Regions from separate parts of the Homo sapiens genome. Here all the other regions are reported to be linked to region 3. Evidence: microRNA targets listed by miRTarBase, many of them from high-throughput screens and not tested one by one. Region 3 holds a microRNA gene; each other region holds the end of a gene's coding sequence. Distances are from middle to middle.
The links. Region 3 holds the annotated microRNA hsa-miR-888-3p (GACUGACACCUCUUUGGGUGAA, at 3,380-3,401, opposite strand). A microRNA usually pairs through its seed, bases 2 to 8, with sites in the 3' UTR of a target mRNA and lowers its output. Matches are read on the target gene's strand: a 7mer-m8 pairs with bases 2 to 8, a 7mer-A1 pairs with bases 2 to 7 and ends in A, and an 8mer does both.

Region 1 (4,469 bases), 130 Mb from region 3:
CAAAAATGTCAGCAGATTCTAAGTAGGCAGGGGAGGACAGAGAGAAAGAGAGCTTAGAAGCCTCTACATGCTAATCAATTATATACATCCCATTCAGACTTTAACCCTATAGCTACAGTCTGCTAATTTAGTTCTAAGAATAAAAAGAGGTTGGGCGTGGTGGCTCACGCCTGTAATCCCAGCAGTTTGGGAGGCTGAGGCGAGTGGATCACGAGGTCAGGAGTTCGAGACCAGCCTGGCCAACATGGTGAAACTCCGTCTCTACTAAAGATGCAAATCAGCCAGGCGTGGTGGTGCGCGCCTGTAATCCTAGCTACTCGGGAAGCTGAGGCAGGAGAATTGCTTGAACCCGGGAGGCAGAGGTTGCAGTGAGCCGAGATTGCACCATTGCACTCCAGCCTGGGAGACAGGGCGAGACTCCCTCTCAAAAAATAAAAATAAAAAAAATAAAAGAATAAAAACAACCTTGGGAGGCTTGAACAGTCCACATAAAGACCACTGGAACTCCAAATGGTCCTTGGTATAATCTTTTTTTGTTTTTGTTTTTTTTGAGATGGAGTTTCACTCTTGTTGCCCAGGCTGGAGTGCAATGGTGTGACCTTGGCTCACTGCAACCTCTGCCTCCTGGGTTCAAGTGATTCTCCTGCCTCAGCCTCCCGAGTACCTGGGATTACAGGTGTGCACCACCATGTTGGGCTAATTTTGTATTTTTAGTAGAGACAGGGTTTCACCATGTTGGTCAGGCTGGTCTCAAACTCTTAACCTCAAGTGATCCACCTGTCTCGGCCTCCCACAGTGCTGGGATTACAGGCGTGAACCACCGTGCCTGGCCAAGTCTTTGGTATAATCTGCCCATAGGTTTAAAAACGTGCACAAGAATGGACCATAATGTTTGAATACATAGCTGTCTGGAGTCCCTAAAGGGGGACTATATTTGCATGCATTAGAACTTGGGGTGTCCATTATGTTTCTTATTAATCTTTCTAGATCAAAATCCAGAATACCAAAGACAGCCAAAAGAAAGAAAGATTTAGACATAACAGTCAGTATGCTAGTCACAAATAAGGTGCAACCCACATTTCTGTCTAGCCATATTCTTGGCAACTCCCAACCTTTTGGTTGGTTGACCAAGTTCTCAGAACACAAAAACATGACAAATAGGAAACCTATAGCTGTCCATGGGAGGGAAAGAACCACTAACAAAGGGGCAGCCTAAAGCCAAGAGTACTCAGTTCTTTAGAAATTAAGGATCCTATTTTTATGTTGGAACTTGGGTCTCTCAGAGCAAAGTTGGTTTTGGCTCTGAAATCCCTTTAACTTAGCTAATGATTTTTCTTACCTCAGCACACAAGAAGAGAAGAAATAAAGTGGATAGATAGCTGTGAATTCTGAAAGCCAGGCTCACTCCTACAGTAACAGTCAGTTACTGCAACTACTGTCAGTTACCTTTGAAACTGCAGCCCCTGCCGGTGACTCATCATCCACTGCAAACCCAAAAGCCATGTGTCCTCTTATGGCACAAACCCTTGGTATTTGTTTTAGTCTGTTTTGTGTTGCTATAACAGAAAACCTGCAACTGGGTAATTTATAAAGAATGGAGGTTTATTTAGCTCATGGTTCTGGAGGCTGGGAAGTCCAAGATTGGGTGGCTGCATCCAGTGAGGCCCTCATGCTGTTTTATAGCATGGTGGAAAAGTGAAAGGAGCAGGGGAGAGAGAGCACTCACACACCAGAGAAAAGGGGGCTGAACTTCTTTAATTGCTAACTTACTCCCATGAGAAAGGCACTAATCCCTCTTAAAGACCCCACCTCCCAAAATGGCCAAAATGGCAATAAAATTTTAACATGAGTTTCAGAGGGGACACACCATATTCAAATCATAGCAGTACTCCAAAGTCAAATGCTCACTCTTGGCATTTACCTTGGATTTGAAGGCCAAAAAATTCAGGGGTCTCAATGCAAAAACAGCAGAGTCTGGCACAAAAGGAACTTATTTACAACACCTAGGACTCTGTGAGGAAGACAGGGGACCTGAAAGGGGTCAGCAGCACGTCTCCTGCATTCCTCAAGAGGCCCTTAAGAGTAATTAGTAGTCTCCTTATGGTCCCTTTTATGGTCACCAGATTGGTCAAAAGATAACATTTAAAGATCTTAACTGGCTTTGTTTGTGATTCTAGAATCAGGCAACACTTCCTTCTGTAAAAATAAAGTGTTCTGATAAGCTGAGCAGAGGAGGTTGGTTTTATAGACAGAGAAAAACTGAAGAAAGCAGAACCAAAGGACAAAAAGCAGACTGGTTGTTTCAAAGTTACCTTCCTTGTAAGACAGCAGGGAAATAACAATAAACAAATAATTGATTGGTTAACATCAGGTTATTTTTGTTGTAAGGCAGAGGGAACTTCATTATTATGCCAATTGAAGCTGGCCGGAGATGACACAGGACCTCAGCATGGGTGACCCCATTTTGACTTTTAGTCTAGTCTGTTGGGGCCTGGTGAAGGAGCTTAGTCCAAAACAATGGGCTCCTACAATTTTCATTTAACAGTATGCATAAGCAAGGCCCCATCTTACCAATGAAGGTGTCAAACCATATTAATTATAGGGCTCAATCCAAGTGTATTCACTTTGTATCTCCAACATACACACACACACAAATACGCTTTTTCAAACAATACACTCCCACAGATTCCCCCCAAGAATCCAATATGGTTCTCATCCCTGAAGGGTGGATCCCTTAATTGAGGATCACTGGCTTATAAAATCTCCAAAGAAGATCACAGTTTAAAGATGGAAAGACTTTATTCCATGAATAACCTGGTATTCCTCCTGTCTCCCTCAGTCACTCACAGATGTCAAGCTTAGTAGTTTTCTCTTGTGCTGTATGAGTTCCTTTCAGGATGTTTTCAAACCGCTCTGGCCTCCTGGTTAGGTGGCACTCACGACAACACCACTAGGTCCAACCCAGTTTCTCACTGGCAATATGTAGGTACTAATGCTGAAACCAAATCCTATTACTGACATTTAACCTAATCTTACCAATAACAGCTTGCTAGGGACTTCCAAAACCCATACTATGCATCTGTTTGTGGGATGAATTGGGATCTGCTTTTCTCTGCTACTGACTATGAATTTCAGGGGTGTTGGAAAGGACTGTACTTGTGATTTGGGCCTAGCTGTTTCAGGGAGCCTGAGGGAAGCTCTCATTTGTGTTTAGCCAAGGTTGGTGACATCAGGTTTCATCAAGTCTTCATATCTATGCACTACATAGAAAGCCTTTAAAAACTCATTAAAGTCAATGCTTCCATCTTTGTTCAAGTCCATTATGTTGGCAAGCTTATTGACTTGGGAATCATCAATGTGAACATTGTAGTGAGAACTAAAAAGTTTCCACATGGCACGAAATTCTTCCACGGAGATCAGGCCTAAAAGAATATAGGAGAAGGTTGTGAGTGTTCATTTTAAGACCCACCTAAGGCAAGGGTTGGGGAACCCACACTGATTAAATAGCCCCAGTTAGAAACTCACTAAACTGCCTAATCATGAAGATACTGAAGGATATGGAAGAGTAAGATCATAAATGTAAGAAACAATATCTCACTTTCAACTACCAAGGGATCCTGAACTTATTCTAAAGCCAGAATGAGCAAACAGTGAAGAAATGGGGACGGGGTTGTGGACTATGGGACTAAATGTGGTATAGAAATTACAAGACCTAAAATAGAAAGGTGAGGTGCATGGAAGGAGGGCAGAGAGGAGGATGACATCAAAGCAGAGGGAGAAGATACGGTGGGAGTCAATAAGAGGATTACAAACAATGGTGCTGCCTTTTTCACAGGCAATCATTTACTTTAATGTGTTGATCATTGATTTTTTTTTTTTTTCGGTGTTCAAAGGTCTCTGCATTAGGGGATTATCTGATGAGTTTTTAAAAATTTGAAAATAAGTAATTGTGCATCAAAGCTAAAGGCAGAAGGCCGGGCGCAGTGGCTCACGCCTGTAATCCCAGCACTTTGGGAGGCTGAGGTGGGCAGGTCATCTGAGGTCGGGAGTTCGAGACCAGCCTGACCAACATGGAGAACCCCATCTCTACTAAAAATAAAAATTATCAGGGTGTGGTGGCGCATGCCTGTAATCCCAGCTACTCAGGAGGCTGAGGCAGGAGAATTGCTTGAACCCGGGAGGCAGAGGTTGTGGTGAGCTGAGATCCCGCCATTGCACTCCAGCCTGGGCAACAAGAGCAAAACTCTGTCGCAAAAAAAAAAAAAAAAAAAAAAAAAAAAGCAGAAAATGACTTTTCATAGCCCTTACTCCCCAAAACAGAATCAGATTTCTAGGAATGATTTTTATGGCCATGAGTAACTAAGATACTGAAATGGATAGTAAATCATCTTTTCATTTGTGCTGGTGATTTATAAAAAGTTATTTCAGTTTGACTGATGGCTACCTAGGCTTCTGTAGGACTCTATGGT
Region 2 (4,458 bases), not on the chromosome of region 3:
ATTCCTGGCAGAGGCTTGAGGCACAGGAATGACAGCGGAATACAGATAAGGGATAGAAAACTTTAGAATAGCTACAGAGGTCAACTAACCCAAACATAGTTTAGCAAAACTTAGTTTCTTTTTCTAGTATATGATTGCTACGTTCTTTTTTGCTCTGCCTTGATCTTTAATATTTTACGTGTTTTTAGAAGAGCAATTTTAATACATACACTCAAATTAGTTTTCTCGATTGTCCACATGCCTTACTCATTAATTAGCTGAGAAGATAGAAATACCAATCTAATGGATCAAAAAGAAATTTGTCTTCTACTACAGACTTTACAGGAAAATCTTTTGGCTTGATCTGACTCCACTGGAAGGGGCTCATGTACTATCACTGGAATGAACAGAGGCACTAGCTGTGATACGGTACTGACAATTTCTTTTCCTTTTGTCTACTGTCTAGGTGATGCAAAGCTGGAATATGGTGTGTTAAATTTTCTGCAGACTAGGATGCTTCAGCTCCCAATGAGAAAACAGAGAAAAAAGAGACTAAGGATGAATGTTTACATGTCTGAGGCCTTTAGCGTGAGTATTCAGCATGAAGCATGTTCAGTGTGAGTACTTCAAAAGATAACAGATGCCGTTTAACAGAAAGAAGTAAAACGTAAGATTCCTAAGGCTTGCTTCACATACAAAAGAGCAGTTATTAGAACATCCAGTGTGTGTGTGTGTGTGTGTGTGTGTGTGTAAATACATACTTTTTTTTTTTGGATACAGTGTCCAGCTCTGTCACCCAAGGTGGAGTGCAGTGGTGCAATCTTGGCTCACTGAAGCCTTGACCTCCCGGAATCATGCAGTCCTACCGACCTCAGCCTCCTGAGTAGCTGGGACCACAGGCGTCTGCCAACACACCCAGCTAATCTTTGCATTTTTTGTAGAGTCTGGGTTTCACCATGTTGTCCAGGTTGGTTTTCAACTCTTGGGCTCAAGTAATCTTCCCTGCTTGGCCTCCCAAAGTGCTGGGATTACAGGCATGAGCTGCCACACCTGGCCAAAATCCAGTATATTTTTAAATTATGTCCTAAAACACAGAAACACTGGATTATAAACAAGATTACTGTTGAAAAGAAAGTATGAACTAACATAAGGCCTTAGCAAGACTAATTTTAAAGTAAAAATAAAGCAAGATTTAATCTAAGTCTTATTCTAACGGTTAATAATTCTTGGGAAGCTAACTAAAGTTCAGTGATCTAATCAGTACTTGGGAGAATCATCATAGCATGTACACAAAATAGAGAATAAAATTTTAATGGTATCAAAAACAAAACTTTTTTTGGCCGATTTAGTACTTGCTGGAATAAAGTTGCAAAATGTTACTCAGTAACTGACTTAGCTTCTAATCAAGCCAGAATGACACACAGTCTGTATATTAATTAAGTATATACAAATACATCCAATGTTAACATGCACAGACATAGAAACAAGGATACTACAAAACCGAAATCACCATCTCTACTGATGAAAAATGAACTGAAAACAAAACATCCATCCAGTAGTCCAGAATATCTTATTTTTGAAAAGGTTTTGAATATTGCTCTTTCCAAGAATTCAAATAAACTCCAAATGGTTAAATTTGACTGTTTTCTCAACATGAAAAAAAGGAAGCAGACATATTCCTATGGCTATAGGAACATACCTTTTACTCAGTGATATCAAATTAAAAGGTCTGACATAATTTCACTCTTCTCAGGTAAAAAGGGCTCTTCATATTCTAGTGGTTAAGAATAAATCCCTTCAAGTTCTTATGCATTTGAGTGTCATACCACCTACAGCAACATACGCTCAAGTACCTTTAACGATACAGTCATATAGCATGAGTTTAATTTTCCTGAGAACTAAATTAGACCTACAAAATAAACAGGCTATGAAAATGACCTGAGTTCATAGGAATCTCTAAGTTAGAGATAATTTAGCTTTGCTAAGATTTCATCAAAAGCCTTTTATAGCAAGGGTTTCTTAGTGAGTCACATACTTGGTCATGGAGCCTTGGAATTTTTTTTAAACATTAAAAAGAAGTGCTTTATGTTGTTGTGCAAATTCAGCAAAAGGCCAAAACAGCCAACAGTACTGAAGCACTAAGTAAAACCTACAAGTAAGCCACAGATTCTACTATCTTATGAAGAAAGGAGGAGGTGAGAGATACAGCTGACCAACTTTGCTCCCAGTTTGACAATGATTATTGGGAAGCTAAGCAATTCCTTGCAAGTTAAGAAAAGACAGCACCTTAAGTGGAACCTAGTGGAAACCACTCAGAAGTGAGGGTTGTGTGCAACAGGGATGGCTACTGATCCCCTCTAGGTAACTCCTCTTTTGTGTGAGAATCCAAGAACATAGAAATCAAGCAGGGAAACACCGGCTTCATGGTCATTTCTCTGAATTATGAATTGCAACTTCTGTTATTATTGTTTGCAAACTACTAAAAGGTCACATGTGAATCAAGTCATTGAACAGCATATAAAAGAATATGGCCTGGCTTCAACCCAAGCTTTTCTTTTTTGTTTTTTAGAGACAGGGTCTGGCTCTGTCACCCAGGCTGGAGTGCATTGGTGTGATCAGAGCTCACTGCAGCTTTGAACTTCTGGGCTCGGGTGATCCTCCCACCTCAGCCTCTTGAGTAGCTGGGACTACAGGTGTACACCACTACAAGTGGCTAATTTTTGTCAGTTTTTGCAGAGAAGAGGGTCTCACTATGTTGCCCAAGCTGGTCTTGAAATCCTGGGCTCAAGAGATCCTCCCATCTTGGCCTCCCGAAGTGTTGGGATTACAGGCGTGAACCACGGTGACTAGCTCAATCCAAGCTTTTCTGATTTCTGATGTAATCTAATTCATGGCACTTTAAATGTTTTGGTGCCTTGGTGTATTAACATGTAACATGAGAACAAGATTTATTTACTTACCTCAAGAAGCTAGTACATGGGTTATTGAATGCACTCTTAAACTTTGAGCCCCTCAGATGAAAAGCACTGTGGAAACAATTACAGCTGAAGAAAACCCTTCCAATGCCTCAGAATCCTGACTTACTGTGCCTTGTGTCTCAATGGCACATTGAGAAACAATGTGCACTAGTTAGTGGCATCACATCCCTTCATATATGTTGTTTGGCACACAAATGTTTATACATTTAAAATAGCTGTCATACTACCTATTCAAAAGCATTTACTAGTTTTCTAATAAAGCTAATGAAATGTACCCATTATGGAGTACTCCGTGTCAAGTTTAGAGAAACTTTAGCTTTCTCTGAAGTACATGTAACATAATAAAAAGTTTATTTAAAAAATTGAACTAGTGTTGTATGAAGCCATAAGTTTTTAATGAAAAAAAATGTATGCCACAGTGTCTATATATTCATCTGAAGAGTACAAAGATGGAGTTCTGAGAAAAAAGGGTTTATCACTATAGAAAATAAATCTGGTTCTTAAATTATGTTCAAAGCAAACATTAAAACAGTAATGTCTCATACACTGAAATAAAGCAATTAGAGGTAATAAATTATAAATACAGTAGTTCAAATATTGTTTTAAGCATTAGTTTTTCTAAACAAGTTAAATTCAAAACATTTTAAATCTGTTATATTTTTTCAAAGGGATGTACAAATGAAAGCCTTCATAGAAATCTAAAACGATACCACCTTGTGATCTTCATATAGAATATGCTGAACCTTGACCATTTTTGATTTATAACATACTTTGGTTAATACATTATGTTCCATATGCCTTTATATTTGGGAGGAATCAGATTGTGATTTGTAGCCTTTACATGCAGTTTACCCAAACCTTCTTCACATCCAGGTCTTGCTTGATTCTCTGGAGAAGGTTTTGTCAGACTCATAATTAAAATGATGCAAACTGTAAATGACTTCTTCAGAACTGAAAACTTCTTTTTTTTTTAAATAAAGTGCTTTTAAATTCAAATATATGTTGCCCTAAAGAAAACTGAAATATACTTTAACCCTGAAATCTCCGTATCTTGACACACACATTTTAACGGAAAAAAAAAAAATCAGTTTTAGGCCATTCATGTCCTTCAAGAGAGTTCAGATTGGATCTAAATTGGGTTTTGCATCATCATCGTGCTCATGTTTATACATGAAGGTTAAAAGAAAAAGGGCAACATCCAAGGATGACCAATAGGCAGTATGCGACGTGACAGCTGACCAATAGCGGCTCTCCACAAGGCCTTCTCTGAGTTCAAAATCAATCCTGTGATCCAACTCCACTAAAAAGAAAAGAAGTTAAACAAATGAATACAGATTATAATAAAATATGTTCTATATAGACTTACTGGAGTTGAGAGTAAAAATTTAGCTAAATAGAAGTGATTCTGTCACTTTTTTAAGAAGTGACTTTCCATTATCATCTTAAGAGAAAAACACTCAAAAGAGCCTCAGTAGTACAGGATTCTATTTGTAAAGTTCTT
Region 3 (4,469 bases):
ACATGTAATCTAAGTTACTGGCACTCTATTAGTCAATTGTCATGCTGCTAATAAAGACATACCAAAGACTGGGTAATTTCTATTGAAAAAAGAGGTTTAATTGACTCACAGTTCAGCATGGCTGGGGAAACCTCAGGAAACTTGCAATTACGGTAGAAGGGGAAGCAAACACGTCCTTCTTTACATGGCGGCAGGAATGAGAAGTGTTGAGCAAAGCGGGTGAAAGCCCCTTATAAAACCATCAGATCTTGTGAGAACTCACTATCATGAGATCAGCAGCATGGGAGTAACCGCCCCCATGATTCAATTACCTCCCACTGGGTCCCTCCCATGACACATGGGGATTATGGGAACTATGATTCAAGGTGAGATTTGGGTGGGGACACAGCCAAACCATATCAGACACCTTTCTGGGAATAGCCCTGAACACAGCATGGTCGAAAGGGGAAGTGCTGCCCCATCTTGCATTTTCATACCCTGCAGCTTTCATCACTCCTCTGAGCACGGTATGATGCCTGAATCCTGAACTTATTTATTCATCAGTTCAAAATAATGCCCAGCCCACAAGCCCCCAACTTGCATGTCTCCCTCAGTGCCCTCTCACCTGCTCTATGTTTACCTGGATGATTGCCCAGACCAGGAGAAAACAAGCTTGTTCCCGTTTTCTATTCTTCAACTAGGAAGTATCTTCATCTCTTCTATCACTTTCTTCTTTAACATGATGGAGTCTACATCATTAGGAATGCACCAGTAGAATTATCTTGAGGATGCCTGAGGTCCATGTGGCCAAATAGGATCTCCTGGCATCAGGGAAGGCAGCTCAAGGCCCTTGGAACTCCACATCAGGGGTCTACAGGCAACTATATGCTTGTACTTGGTAAGCCTTAGTCCACTCAGAGAGGAACTAGTTACATATAATCTAAGTGACTGGCACCTTTCTGGAACATATTATGGACGAATGGGGAGGGGCTACTCCATCGTGCAATGTGAATCCCCATCCTAGAGAATGTCCAGCCCACTGCCCTCCATCATGTATGTTTCCCTCAGCAAGAGCACTCTCACTTGGCTTCATGTTTACCCAGATGGTTGCCAGGACCACGAGAGAACAAGCTTGTTTTTCTGTTCTTCTATTAGGAAGTATCTTCACGTCTTCTATCCTTCTCTTCTCTATCATATAGGTATTCTCATTATTAGGAATGAACCACTGAAATCATCTAGAGGATGTCTGAGGTTCAGGTGGCCAGCTAGGATCTCCTGGCATCATTGAAGACAACTTAGGGCTCCAGCAACTCCAACTCATCGCCTGTCTGAAGACCACCACACACTTGTACTTGGTAAGCCCTACTCCACTCAGAAAGGAAACAGTGACATGTAATCTAAGTGACTGGCACCTTTCTGAATAGGGCACTGCCCACAGCACGACTGATAGTGGAGGTGCTGCCCCATCACCCACCATCACGCACTGCAGGTTTCATCACTCCCCTCAACACAGCAGGCTGCCTGAGCCCTGAACACATTTATTAAGTCCTAGAGAAGTTCCAGCCCACTGCCCTCCAACTTGGCATGCCTGCCTCAATGAAGACCTTCTCACTTGATTTATGTTTCCCTGGATGATGGCCAAGACGAGAAGAAAAAAAATCTTGTTCCCGTTCTCTCTTCTTCTTTTAGGAAGTATCTTTATCTCTTCTATTATTACCTTATCTAACCTGTAGGTGCTCACATTGTTAGAAATGGATCATTAAAATCATCTTGAGGATCCCTGAGTTCCAGGTGGCTTCCAAATCTCTCCTGGGATCAATGAAGGCAGTTGAAGGTGCTTGCAGGTCTGTCTCCTCACCAATCTGAACGCCATCACAAAATTGTACCTGGAGAATCTTGCTCTACCCAGAAAGGAGCTGGAAACATCTAATCTAAGTGACTGACCCCTTTTGGAGTAGGGCACTGCCCACAACATGGCTAATTGTGGGGGTGCTGTCCCATCTTGCATGTTCTCCCCCTGTAGCTTCCATCACTCCTGAGCACAGCATGATGCCTGAACCCTGAATTTATTTATTCAACAGTCCTGGATCATGTCTAACCCACTGCCCTCCAATGTACATGCCTCCCTAAATGAGGAACCCCTCACCTGCTCTATGTTTACCTGGGTGATCGCCAAGACCAGGAGAAAGCAAGATTGTTCTCATTCTATTTTTCTAGTAGGAATTATCTTCATCTTGTCTTTCTCATCTATAACCTGCATGTGTTCATGTTGTTAGGGACAGACGATTTAGAATATCTCGACGATGCCTGAGGTCCACATGGCCAACTAAGGTCTCCTGGTATCAGGAAAGGTACCTCAAGGCTCTTGAAACTCCACCCTATCATGGGTCCAAAGGCCACTACAAACTTATACTTGTTGAGCCTTACACTACCAAGGAAGAAACCAGTGATGTATAATCTAGGAAACTGGCACATTTCTAAGTAGGACACTGCACACAGCATGTCTGATAGCGGAGGTGCTGGCCCATCTTGCAAGGTCAACCCCCGTCCAGGAGAATGTCCAGTCTGCTGCCCTCCATGACGCATGTCTCACTCAATGAGACATGCTCACTGCTCCATATTTGCCCAGATGGTTGCCAGGACCATGAGAGAACAAGCTCGTTTTCTGTTCTTCTATTAGGAAGTATCTTCATTTCTTCTATCTTTCTATTCTCTGAAAAATAGGTATTTCCATTGTTAGAAATGCATCATTGAAATCACCTTGAGAACACCTAAGGTTCAGGTGGCCAGCTAGGATCTCCCGGCCTTACTGAAGACAACTAAAGCCTCCAGCAACTCCACTGCATCACCTGTCCGAAGGTCACCATGAACTTGTACTTGGTAAGACTTACTCTACTCAGAAAGGGAATAGTTACATGTAATCTAAGCAACTGATGCCTTTCCAAGTAGGGCACTTCCCACAGCATGTCTGATTGTAGAGGTGCTGCCCCATCATCCACCATCGTGCACTGCAGCTTTCATCACCCCACTCAACACAGCAGGATGCCTGAACCCTGAACTTAATCTTAATTCCTAGAGAATTTCCAGCCCACTGCCCTCCAACTTGGCATGCCTGCCTCAGTGACGACCTTCTTATCTGATTTATGTTCACCTGGATGATGGCCAAGACAAGAAAAGATTGTTCCTGTTTTCTCCTTTTAGGAAGTAACTATCTTTTCTGTCATTGCCTTCTCTAATTTGTAGGTGCTCACGTTGTTAGAAATGATCATCTTGACGATGCCTGAATTCCAGGTGGTTTCCAAGGTTCTCCTGGGATCAATGAAGGCAGCTCAAGTTGCTTGCAGGTCTACCCCCTCACCAGTCTGAGGACCACCACAAAAGTGTACTTGGTGAGCCTTCCTTCACCCAAAGAGGTGTCAGTCACATGTAATCTAAGTGACTGACAGCTTTTTGAGTAGAGCACTGCCCACAACATGGCTAATTGTGGAGGTGCTGTCGCATCTTGCGTGTTCTCCACCTGTAGCTTCCATCACTCCTCTGAGCACAGCATGATGTCTGAACCCTGAACTTATTTATTCATCAGTCCTGGATCATGTCTAGCCCACTGCCCTCCAAGGTATATGCCTCCCTAAGTGAGGAATCTCTCACCTACTCTATGTTTATCTGGATGATTGCCAGGACCAGAAGAGAGCAAGATTGTTCCCATTTTCTATTTTTCTAGTAGGAATTATCTTCATCTTGCCTTTCTGATCTATAACCTGTAGGTGCTCATGTTGTTAGGGACAAGCCACTTAACTTATCTTGAGGATGCCTGAGGTCCACATGGCCAACTAAGATCTGCTGGTCTCAGGGAAGGTACCTGAAGGCTCTTGCAACTCTACACTATCATGGGTCCAAAGGCCACTACAAACTTATACTTGGTGTGCCTTACTCTACCTGGAAAGGAACTAGTGACATATAATCTGGGCGACTGACACATTTCTGGGCAGGGCACTGCACACAGCATGGCTGATTGTGGAGGTACTGCCCTATCTTGCACAGTTATACCCTACAGCTTTCACCACTCCCCTCAACACAGCATGGCGCCTGAACCCCGAACTTAACTTATTCATAAGTCCCAAAGAATACCCAGCTCATTGCCCTTCAACTTGCATGCTTCCTTCAGTGAGTACCCTCTCATCTGCTTTGTTTAGCCAGATAATTACCAAGACCAGTAGTGAACACACTTTTTCCAGATTTCTCCTCTTCTACAAAACATATATTGATCTTTTATCTTTTGCTTCCTTAACACATAAGTGCTCATATTGTTTGGTGTGCACCATCGAAATCATCTTGAGGATGCCTGAGGTCCACGTGACCAACTAGGATCTTCTGGCATTCGAGAAGGCAGTTGAAAGGCCCCTGACGCTCCACTGCATCAGGAGTCCAAAGGCCAGCCAAAAGTTGTGTTTGGTGATATTACTCCACCCAGAAAGGAACCAGTTACATAT
Region 4 (4,469 bases), not on the chromosome of region 3:
AATGGCAAGTTGTACTGGTCATACTGGTGAGTCTTCTTAAACAGAAGTACTGATAAGACTTGTTTTGTAAACGTGACGATATTTTGAAATGGTATTTCTCAAACTTTAGTGTGTTCAAGAGTCATCTGGAAAACTAGTTGAAAATAGATTCCTGGACCACAACCCTAGAGATTCTCATTCAGTATGTCTGGAGTAGGGCTGGAGAATTTCTAACAAGCTCCCAGTTGATGCTCCTGCTGCTGGTTTGTGGTGCACACTTTGAATCCCACTGTCTTACTTGACATAGTGTTAAGAGTTTGCATATATAGTTAATTCAGACTTGTCAACTCTTTCACCTTCAGAATTTGCTTAGATACTGAGGAAGCAATTTTCTTGAAATAGTATACTTTTAAAAATTGTTTCCTCACATGACTAAAGATTGTAATACATTCAATCATTTTTTTTAAAACTTTGACTGAATGCTTACCAGATGTATACCAGATCCAGAGAATACAAAAATGAGTCAGAATTGTCCTTAAGAAAATTTTCTGCATCGGAATTATAAAATTATAAAACTTGGAATTACAGGCTGGGTGCAGTGGCTCATGCCTGTAATCCCAGCACTTTGGGAGGCCGAGGCAGGTGGATCACTTGAGGTCAGGAGTTCGAGACCAGCCTGGCCAACATGGCAAAACCCTGTCTCTACTAAAAATACAAAAATTAGCCAGTCATGGTGGCAGGCGCCTATAATCCCAGCTACTCTGGAGGCTGAGGCAGGAGAATTGCTCAAACCTGGGAGGCGGAGGTTGCAGTGAGCTGAGATCGCATCACTGCACTCCAGCCTGGGCGACAGAGTGAGACTCCGCCTCCAAAAAAAAAAAAAAAACTTGGAATTAATTACAGCAATGAAGAGAGGGTATATGAAACACTTTGCTATGATTTGAATGTGTCCCTCAAGGTTCATATGTTGGAAACTTAAGCCTCAATACAACAGTATAGAGAGGCAGGGCCTTTAAGAGGTAAATTAGGTCACAAGGGCAGCCCTCATGAATGGTTTAATGCCATTATCTCTGGAACGGGTTCATTATCTTGGGAGTGGTTCCTTATTAAAGGATGACTTGTGTCCCCTTCCCTCTCTTGCCCATGTCATGCCTTCCATCTTGTTATTACACAGCAAGAAGGCCTTCATCAGATGCCAGCCCCTTGATCTTGGACTTCTCAGCTTCCATAATCATAAGCCAGTTTCTGTATGCTCATTATAGTTACCCAGTTTGTCGTATTCTGTTACAGTACCACAAAATGGACCAAGACACCTCGTACCTTGGTTTTACCATTTCTTTTCTGTGTCGCCTTTTCCTTTTGTTGTTTTCGAAGCTGGCTTTACTTCTCATATGAGTTTACTAACAGTATAACTTCAAGGAGTCCAGAAATAAGCATTTCTTTTTTTTTTTTACTACTCCAGGCATCTCTGACCAATGTGAATAGCAGGATCTCAGCTATATGACATTGTCCAAGGCTCTGTAGAATGGGCCTTATGGACTTACTTGAAGAAGATGGATATACATGGGTGTCAGGCAGGCACTAATATTAAATTATATAAATAGGGGAATATAAAGACCAAATGTATGCATTATATATCAAACAAAGCATTCTGATGAGAGGTGGTCTAGCGAGGAGATCTAAAATGGTAATTACATTTTCTCTGGCTAAGGACTGGAGAATGAAGAGATAAGGACAAACACTGGCCCTGTGAAGTACATGGAGAACATGTGATCCCTAGTTGTTTTTATGTCATATTCCTTATCCCTGGCAGATGGCAGACTTCATTCTTAACACTGTGCTTCATACCTTTCTCTTTACCTTCCAGTGACTGTCATGTGGCATGGGTCTCTGCCCAAGCTCGTAATGAGACTATAGCAAGGCGGCTGTGGGACGTCAGTTGTGACCTGCTGGGCCTCCCAATAGACTAACAGGCAGTGCCAGTTGGACCCAAGAGAAGACTGCAGCAGACTACACAGTACTTCTTGTCAAAATGATTCTCCTTCAAGGTTTTCAAAACCTTTAGCACAAAGAGAGCAAAACCTTCCAGCCTTGCCTGCTTGGTGTCCAGTTAAAACTCAGTGTACTGCCAGATTCGTCTAAATGTCTGTCATGTCCAGATTTACTTTGCTTCTGTTACTGCCAGAGTTACTAGAGATATCATAATAGGATAAGAAGACCCTCATATGACCTGCACAGCTCATTTTCCTTCTGAAAGAAACTACTACCTAGGAGAATCTAAGCTATAGCAGGGATGATTTATGCAAATTTGAACTAGCTTCTTTGTTCACAATTCAGTTCCTCCCAACCAACCAGTCTTCACTTCAAGAGGGCCACACTGCAACCTCAGCTTAACATGAATAACAAAGACTGGCTCAGGAGCAGGGCTTGCCCAGGCATGGTGGATCACCGGAGGTCAGTAGTTCAAGACCAGCCTGGCCAACATGGTGAAACCCCACCTCTACTAAAAATTGTGTATATCTTTGTGTGTCTTCCTGTTTATGTGTGCCAAGGGAGTATTTTCACAAAGTTCAAAACAGCCACAATAATCAGAGATGGAGCAAACCAGTGCCATCCAGTCTTTATGCAAATGAAATGCTGCAAAGGGAAGCAGATTCTGTATATGTTGGTAACTACCCACCAAGAGCACATGGGTAGCAGGGAAGAAGTAAAAAAAGAGAAGGAGAATACTGGAAGATAATGCACAAAATGAAGGGACTAGTTAAGGATTAACTAGCCCTTTAAGGATTAACTAGTTAAGGATTAATAGCAAAAGATATTAAATATGCTAACATAGCTATGGAGGAATTGAGGGCAAGCACCCAGGACTGATGAGGTCTTAACAAAAACCAGTGTGGCAAAAAAAAAAAAAAAAAAAAAAAAAAAAATCCTAAAAACAAACAAACAAAAAAAACAATTCTTCATTCAGAAAAATTATCTTAGGGACTGATATTGGTAATTATGGTCAATTTAATAATATTTTGGGGCATTTCCTTACATTGTCTTGACAAGATTAAAATGTCTGTGCCAAAATTTTGTATTTTATTTGGAGACTTCTTATCAAAAGTAATGCTGCCAAAGGAAGTCTAAGGAATTAGTAGTGTTCCCATCACTTGTTTGGAGTGTGCTATTCTAAAAGATTTTGATTTCCTGGAATGACAATTATATTTTAACTTTGGTGGGGGAAAGAGTTATAGGACCACAGTCTTCACTTCTGATACTTGTAAATTAATCTTTTATTGCACTTGTTTTGACCATTAAGCTATATGTTTAGAAATGGTCATTTTACGGAAAAATTAGAAAAATTCTGATAATAGTGCAGAATAAATGAATTAATGTTTTACTTAATTTATATTGAACTGTCAATGACAAATAAAAATTCTTTTTGATTATTTTTTGTTTTCATTTACCAGAATAAAAACTAAGAATTAAAAGTTTGATTACAGTCAAAAGAAGAAAACACTGTTCATTATTATGGTTGTGCAATGATTTCTCATTCTAAAGAATAATTTGTTCCAGAGTCTAGCTACAGTGTAATCTCAATCCACATGCTATTAATTTAGGTTGTGTGATAATCTAATTGTTCATTCACCATTTCCTACTTAACCTTTTTTGACACTCTTCACAGACACTTTTTCCACATTTCTTGATCATCCCGGGCCATTTTTTTTTCCTTTCTTTTTAATTAGAGACAGCGTCTTGCTTTGTTGCCCAGGCTGGCCTCAAACTCTGGGCTCAAGCGATCCTCCCACCTTGGCCTCCCAAAGTGCTGGGGTACAGGTGTGAGCCGCAGCACCCGGCCCCAGGCTATTGATCCTTTTTTTGCACCTGCCCCTTATTTCTGTACTGTGACAAGTCCCAGCATTGTGCTGTGGGACTTACACAGTATACTGACTATCCTCAGACTTGGTCATGTCTATGCTCAGTGCATATTAAGAGCTTAACCAAAGTGTGTTGAATCAACAGCCAATGAACTTGATCTAATAAAAATGAGGGCCCAGGAGATACAAATTAGCAAAGCATTTTCTCCTGAGCAGTCATACATCTTTTAATATTTGTAGGCAGTTTAAAATTGAACTCCCAAGCAAACATTTGAGAACAGACACCTTGAGCAAACCGTGAAATCGGTGAAAATAATAATTTATTTTAATTTTTTGAGATAGGGTCTTCTCTGTCACCCAGGCTGGAGTGTGGTGGCACGATCTCAGCTCACTGCAACCACTGCCTCCCGGGTTCAGGCGATTCTCCTGCCTCAGCCTCCCGAGTAGCTGGGGTTACAGGCGCCCACCACCACGCTTGGCTAATTTTTGTGTTTTTAGCAGAGACGGGGGTTTCACCATGTTGGCCAGGCTGGTCTTGAACTCTTGACCTGAAGTGATCCGCCCGCCTCGGCCTCCCAAAGTGCTGGGATGACGCGTGAGCCACCATGCCCGACGTGAAGACAGGAATTT
Region 5 (4,392 bases), not on the chromosome of region 3:
CCTCAAGTGATCTGCCTGCCTCAGCCTCCCAAAATGCTGGGATTACAGGTGTGAGCCACCATGCCGGGCCAGAAGCAACATTTTTGAAAACCTCAGTGAGTTACAAAGACTCAGCATTGCCCAGACACAATGGCTCACGCCTGTAATCCCAGCACTTTGGGAAGCTGATGCAGGCGGATCACCTGAGATCAGGAATTCGAGACCAGCCTGGCCAACATGGTGAAACCCCGTCTCTACTAAAATACAAAAATTAGCCAGGCATGGTGGCACGTGCCTGTAATCCTGGCTACTTGGGAGGCTGAGGCAGGAGAATTGCCTGAACCCAGGAGGCAGAGGTTGCAGTGAGCCGAGGTTGTGCCACTGCACTCCAACCTGGGCCACAAGAGCAAAACTCCATTTCAAAAAAAAGAAAAAAGAAAAATGATTCAGTATTGCCCAGCCTGCATTCTTTGTCCATGACGCTGCTAGGTTGGAGATCCACTATCTAATAATTGCTCTAAAAAATCAATTTGGAAATGTTTTAAACACCTGCGTGTGTCTAGTCTGAGCTACCACAAAGCTTCTATCCTTTCTTCCCACAGTAGAGTCTCTCCCAGGTGGTTTCCAGGGACTCCCGTCCTCACTCTTGTCTCTGTCCCACAGGAAACGCCACCCCAGTGACCACCACTGCCCCGTGGGCCTCCCTGGGCCTCTCCGCCAAGACCTGCAACAACGTGTCCTTCGAAGAGAGCAGGATAGTCCTGGTCGTGGTGTACAGCGCGGTGTGCACGCTGGGGGTGCCGGCCAACTGCCTGACTGCGTGGCTGGCGCTGCTGCAGGTACTGCAGGGCAACGTGCTGGCCGTCTACCTGCTCTGCCTGGCACTCTGCGAGCTGCTGTACACAGGCACGCTGCCACTCTGGGTCATCTATATCCGCAACCAGCACCGCTGGACCCTAGGCCTGCTGGCCTGCAAGGTGACCGCCTACATCTTCTTCTGCAACATCTACGTCAGCATCCTCTTCCTGTGCTGCATCTCCTGCGACCGCTTCGTGGCCGTGGTGTACGCGCTGGAGAGTCGGGGCCGCCGCCGCCGGAGGACCGCCATCCTCATCTCCGCCTGCATCTTCATCCTCGTCGGGATCGTTCACTACCCGGTGTTCCAGACGGAAGACAAGGAGACCTGCTTTGACATGCTGCAGATGGACAGCAGGATTGCCGGGTACTACTACGCCAGGTTCACCGTTGGCTTTGCCATCCCTCTCTCCATCATCGCCTTCACCAACCACCGGATTTTCAGGAGCATCAAGCAGAGCATGGGCTTAAGCGCTGCCCAGAAGGCCAAGGTGAAGCACTCGGCCATCGCGGTGGTTGTCATCTTCCTAGTCTGCTTCGCCCCGTACCACCTGGTTCTCCTCGTCAAAGCCGCTGCCTTTTCCTACTACAGAGGAGACAGGAACGCCATGTGCGGCTTGGAGGAAAGGCTGTACACAGCCTCTGTGGTGTTTCTGTGCCTGTCCACGGTGAACGGCGTGGCTGACCCCATTATCTACGTGCTGGCCACGGACCATTCCCGCCAAGAAGTGTCCAGAATCCATAAGGGGTGGAAAGAGTGGTCCATGAAGACAGACGTCACCAGGCTCACCCACAGCAGGGACACCGAGGAGCTGCAGTCGCCCGTGGCCCTTGCAGACCACTACACCTTCTCCAGGCCCGTGCACCCACCAGGGTCACCATGCCCTGCAAAGAGGCTGATTGAGGAGTCCTGCTGAGCCCACTGTGTGGCAGGGGGATGGCAGGTTGGGGGTCCTGGGGCCAGCAATGTGGTTCCTGTGCACTGAGCCCACCAGCCACAGTGCCCATGTCCCCTCTGGAAGACAAACTACCAATTTCTCGTTCCTGAAGCCACTCCCTCCGTGACCACTGGCCCCAGGCTTTCCCACATGGAAGGTGGCTGCATGCCAAGGGGAGGAGCGACACCTCCAGGCTTCCGGGAGCCCAGAGAGCATGTGGCAGGCAGTGGGGCCTCTTCATCAGCAGCCTGCCTGGCTGGCTCCCTTGGCTGTGGGCAGGTAGCACGCCTGCTGGCAGAGGTACCTGGTGGCTGCCCTGTTCGCATCAGTGGCGATGACTTTATTTGCGGAGCATTTCTGCAAGCGTTGCCTGGATGCGGTGGTGCATTGTGGGCCCTCTGGGCTCCTGCCTCAGAATGTCAGTGAGCACCATGCTGGAGGTCACCCAGCACTGTGGCAGCGCCCAGGAGGGCATAGGGCAGCCTACCACCTCCAAGGGGGCAGGCGCCCTCATCTGGGGTTGGGTCTGTGCTGAGCTGGAGGGCCTCTAGGGAACCGTGGGGCAGGGTGGCCAGCTGCTGGCTCCCAGAGCGCAGCCCAGGCGTCCTCAACGGGGAGCCCCAAATGTCCACGCCCAGAACAACAGTTGGCAGGACAGGTGTGACACAGCCACAGCAGAGGCAAGGGGTGCCAGGAGTCCCCAGCGGCATCCTCGGGGAGATGCTGGTGAGGGGTCCGTACAGGGTGGGGTCCCCACCCCTAGCCCCTTACTGAGGGGGGAGTGCAGCAGTTGGCCTGCTTGTCTGGCGGAGAAAGCCAGCTCCCTGCACCCTCGGGGCTGAGTCAGATCTGGGTCTGCCGCAAAGGCCTTGCCTAGACCAGGTCACACTGATGCCCTGGTTTCCCTATCTGTAAAATGGGGCCAATGACACCTACCTCACTGGGTCACCATCGAGATCAATCCTCCTCCCTGCCCCGACACCTCGGGCACATCGCATGCACTCAGAGCACAGAGCCGGGCAGACGCAGCACCTGCATGGGGAGCCCAGTGCCCGGCACAGCACAGGGGCTTCCAGGGAGGCCGCGCAGGGCCGTGGGGCTGAGCCACGCTCTCGTTTTGTCAGGCAGCTATGCAGTTGCTCTTCCTTGTTTTTGTTTTGTTTTTGTTTTTGTTTTTAATATTTATTTTTTTAGAGACAGGGCCTTGCTCTGTTGCCTGGGCTGGAGAACAGTGGCACCATCATAGCTCACTGCAGCCTCAAACTCCTGGGCTCAAGCGATCCTCCCCGCTCAGCCTCCTGAGTAGCTGGGACTACAGGTGTGCACCACCACACCCAGCCAAAACAGCCATCCTCCCCTTGAGAGTCATCAGAAAAATACATTAGGAAAATGTGTTTAGAAATAAAAGCACAAGGCAGGGCAGTGCTCACGCCTGTCATCCCAGCACTTTGGGAGGCCGAGACGGGAGGATCAGTTGAGGTCAGGAGTTTGAGACCAGCCTCGGCAACATGGCAAAATCTTGTCTCTTTTTTTTGGTATTAAAAAAATCATAAAAATAAAAGAAATAATGCAATTTAACCTTCACAGTTAACATTTCTCCAATTTAACCTTCACAGTTAACATTTCTCCAATTTAACCTTCACAGTTAACATTTCTCCTGCCTTGAGAGGAGTGTGCCCCTAGGCTTCCAGAGGACAGCCGTGACCAGGGACTTGAAAAGTTGGGGCTGAGGTTCTGGACCAGTCTGGAATATTCAGGGCTGGGGCAAAAGGGATCATAACGATGTCCAGCAGGGGCTTTCCTGTGGCTGCTATAACCAGTTCCCACAAGTTGGTGGCTTAAAACAACAAACCGGGCTGGGCACCATGGCTCATGCCTATAATCCCAGCACTTTGGGAGGCCAAGGCGGGCAGATCACCTGAGGTCAGGAGTTCAAGACTAGCCTGGCCAACATGATGAAACCCCGTCTCTACTAAAAACACACACAAAAAAATTATCTGGGTGTGGTGGAGCACACCTGTAATCCCAGCTACTTCGGAGGCTGAGACAGGAGAATCGCTTGAACCCAGGAGGCAGAGGTTGCAGTGAGCTGCGATCGTGCCATTGCACTCCAGCCTGGGCAACAAGAGCAAAATTCCTTCTCAAAAAACAAAACAACAGCAACAACAAAAAAACACAACCAAAAACTGTTTACTCAGGCTGGGCGCGGTGGCTCACGCCTGTAATCCCAGCACTTTGGGAGGCCGAGGCGGGCGGATCACGAGGTCAGGAGATCAAGACCATCCTGGCTAACACAGTGAAACCCCTTCTCTACTAAAAATACAAAAAATTAGCCGGGCGTGGTGGCAGGCGCCTGTAGTCCCAGCTACTCGGGAGGCTGAGGCAGGAGAATGGCGTGAACCCAGGAGGCAGAACTTGCAGTGAGCCGAGATCGCGCCACTGCACTCCAGCCTGGGAGACAGAGCGAGACTCCATCTCAAAAAAAAAAAAACCACTGTTTTCTCACAGCTCTGAAGCCAGAGTCCACTTTTTCATCTTTTGCTGCCACACAGCAACAAATAAGAGCCTCGCTCCCACGTCAGATCCCAGCCTTGGGGACCGGGCGCCGTCTCACCCACCG

Region 1: miRTarBase lists PPEF1 as a target of hsa-miR-888-3p. Seed matches in the 3' UTR shown: 7mer-A1 at 3,117-3,123 and 8mer at 3,013-3,020.
Region 2: the mRNA of DDHD1 is a reported target of hsa-miR-888-3p. Seed matches in the 3' UTR shown: 8mer at 410-417.
Region 4: miRTarBase lists RDH11 as a target of hsa-miR-888-3p. Seed matches in the 3' UTR shown: 7mer-A1 at 2,434-2,440.
Region 5: miRTarBase lists GPR132 as a target of hsa-miR-888-3p. Seed matches in the 3' UTR shown: 7mer-m8 at 2,190-2,196.

What each region holds. Positions count from the first base shown.
Region 1 is chrX:18,826,229-18,830,697 of GRCh38, reverse strand. It overlaps PPEF1 (protein phosphatase with EF-hand domain 1), which reads right to left. Exons shown (of 16, transcript NM_001377996.1): 16 at 2,781-3,422. The coding sequence ends at 3,211. Among named protein-coding and RNA genes, the nearest start is that of PHKA2-AS1, 62 kb to the left of the region's middle.
Region 2 is chr14:53,042,693-53,047,150 of GRCh38, forward strand. DDHD1 (DDHD domain containing 1) reads right to left here. Exons shown (of 13, transcript NM_001160148.2): 13 at 1-4,257. The coding sequence ends at 4,076. Among named protein-coding and RNA genes, the nearest start is that of FERMT2, 94 kb to the left of the region's middle.
Region 3 is chrX:145,991,415-145,995,883 of GRCh38, forward strand. MIR888 (microRNA 888) reads right to left here and starts at 3,446; the gene lies at 3,370-3,446. MIR890 (microRNA 890) reads right to left here and starts at 2,937; the gene lies at 2,861-2,937. MIR892C (microRNA 892c) reads right to left here and starts at 1,412; the gene lies at 1,336-1,412.
Region 4 is chr14:67,675,801-67,680,269 of GRCh38, reverse strand. RDH11 (retinol dehydrogenase 11) reads left to right here. Exons shown (of 7, transcript NM_016026.4): 7 at 1,847-3,470. The coding sequence ends at 1,949. It also overlaps a transcript of GPHN not described here. Among named protein-coding and RNA genes, the nearest start is that of VTI1B, 3.4 kb to the right of the region's middle.
Region 5 is chr14:105,048,353-105,052,744 of GRCh38, reverse strand. GPR132 (G protein-coupled receptor 132) reads left to right here. Exons shown (of 4, transcript NM_013345.4): 4 at 643-3,350. The coding sequence ends at 1,751. All of the region lies in intron 1 of LOC124903398 (a long non-coding RNA gene), which reads right to left. Among named protein-coding and RNA genes, the nearest start is that of GPR132, 15 kb to the left of the region's middle.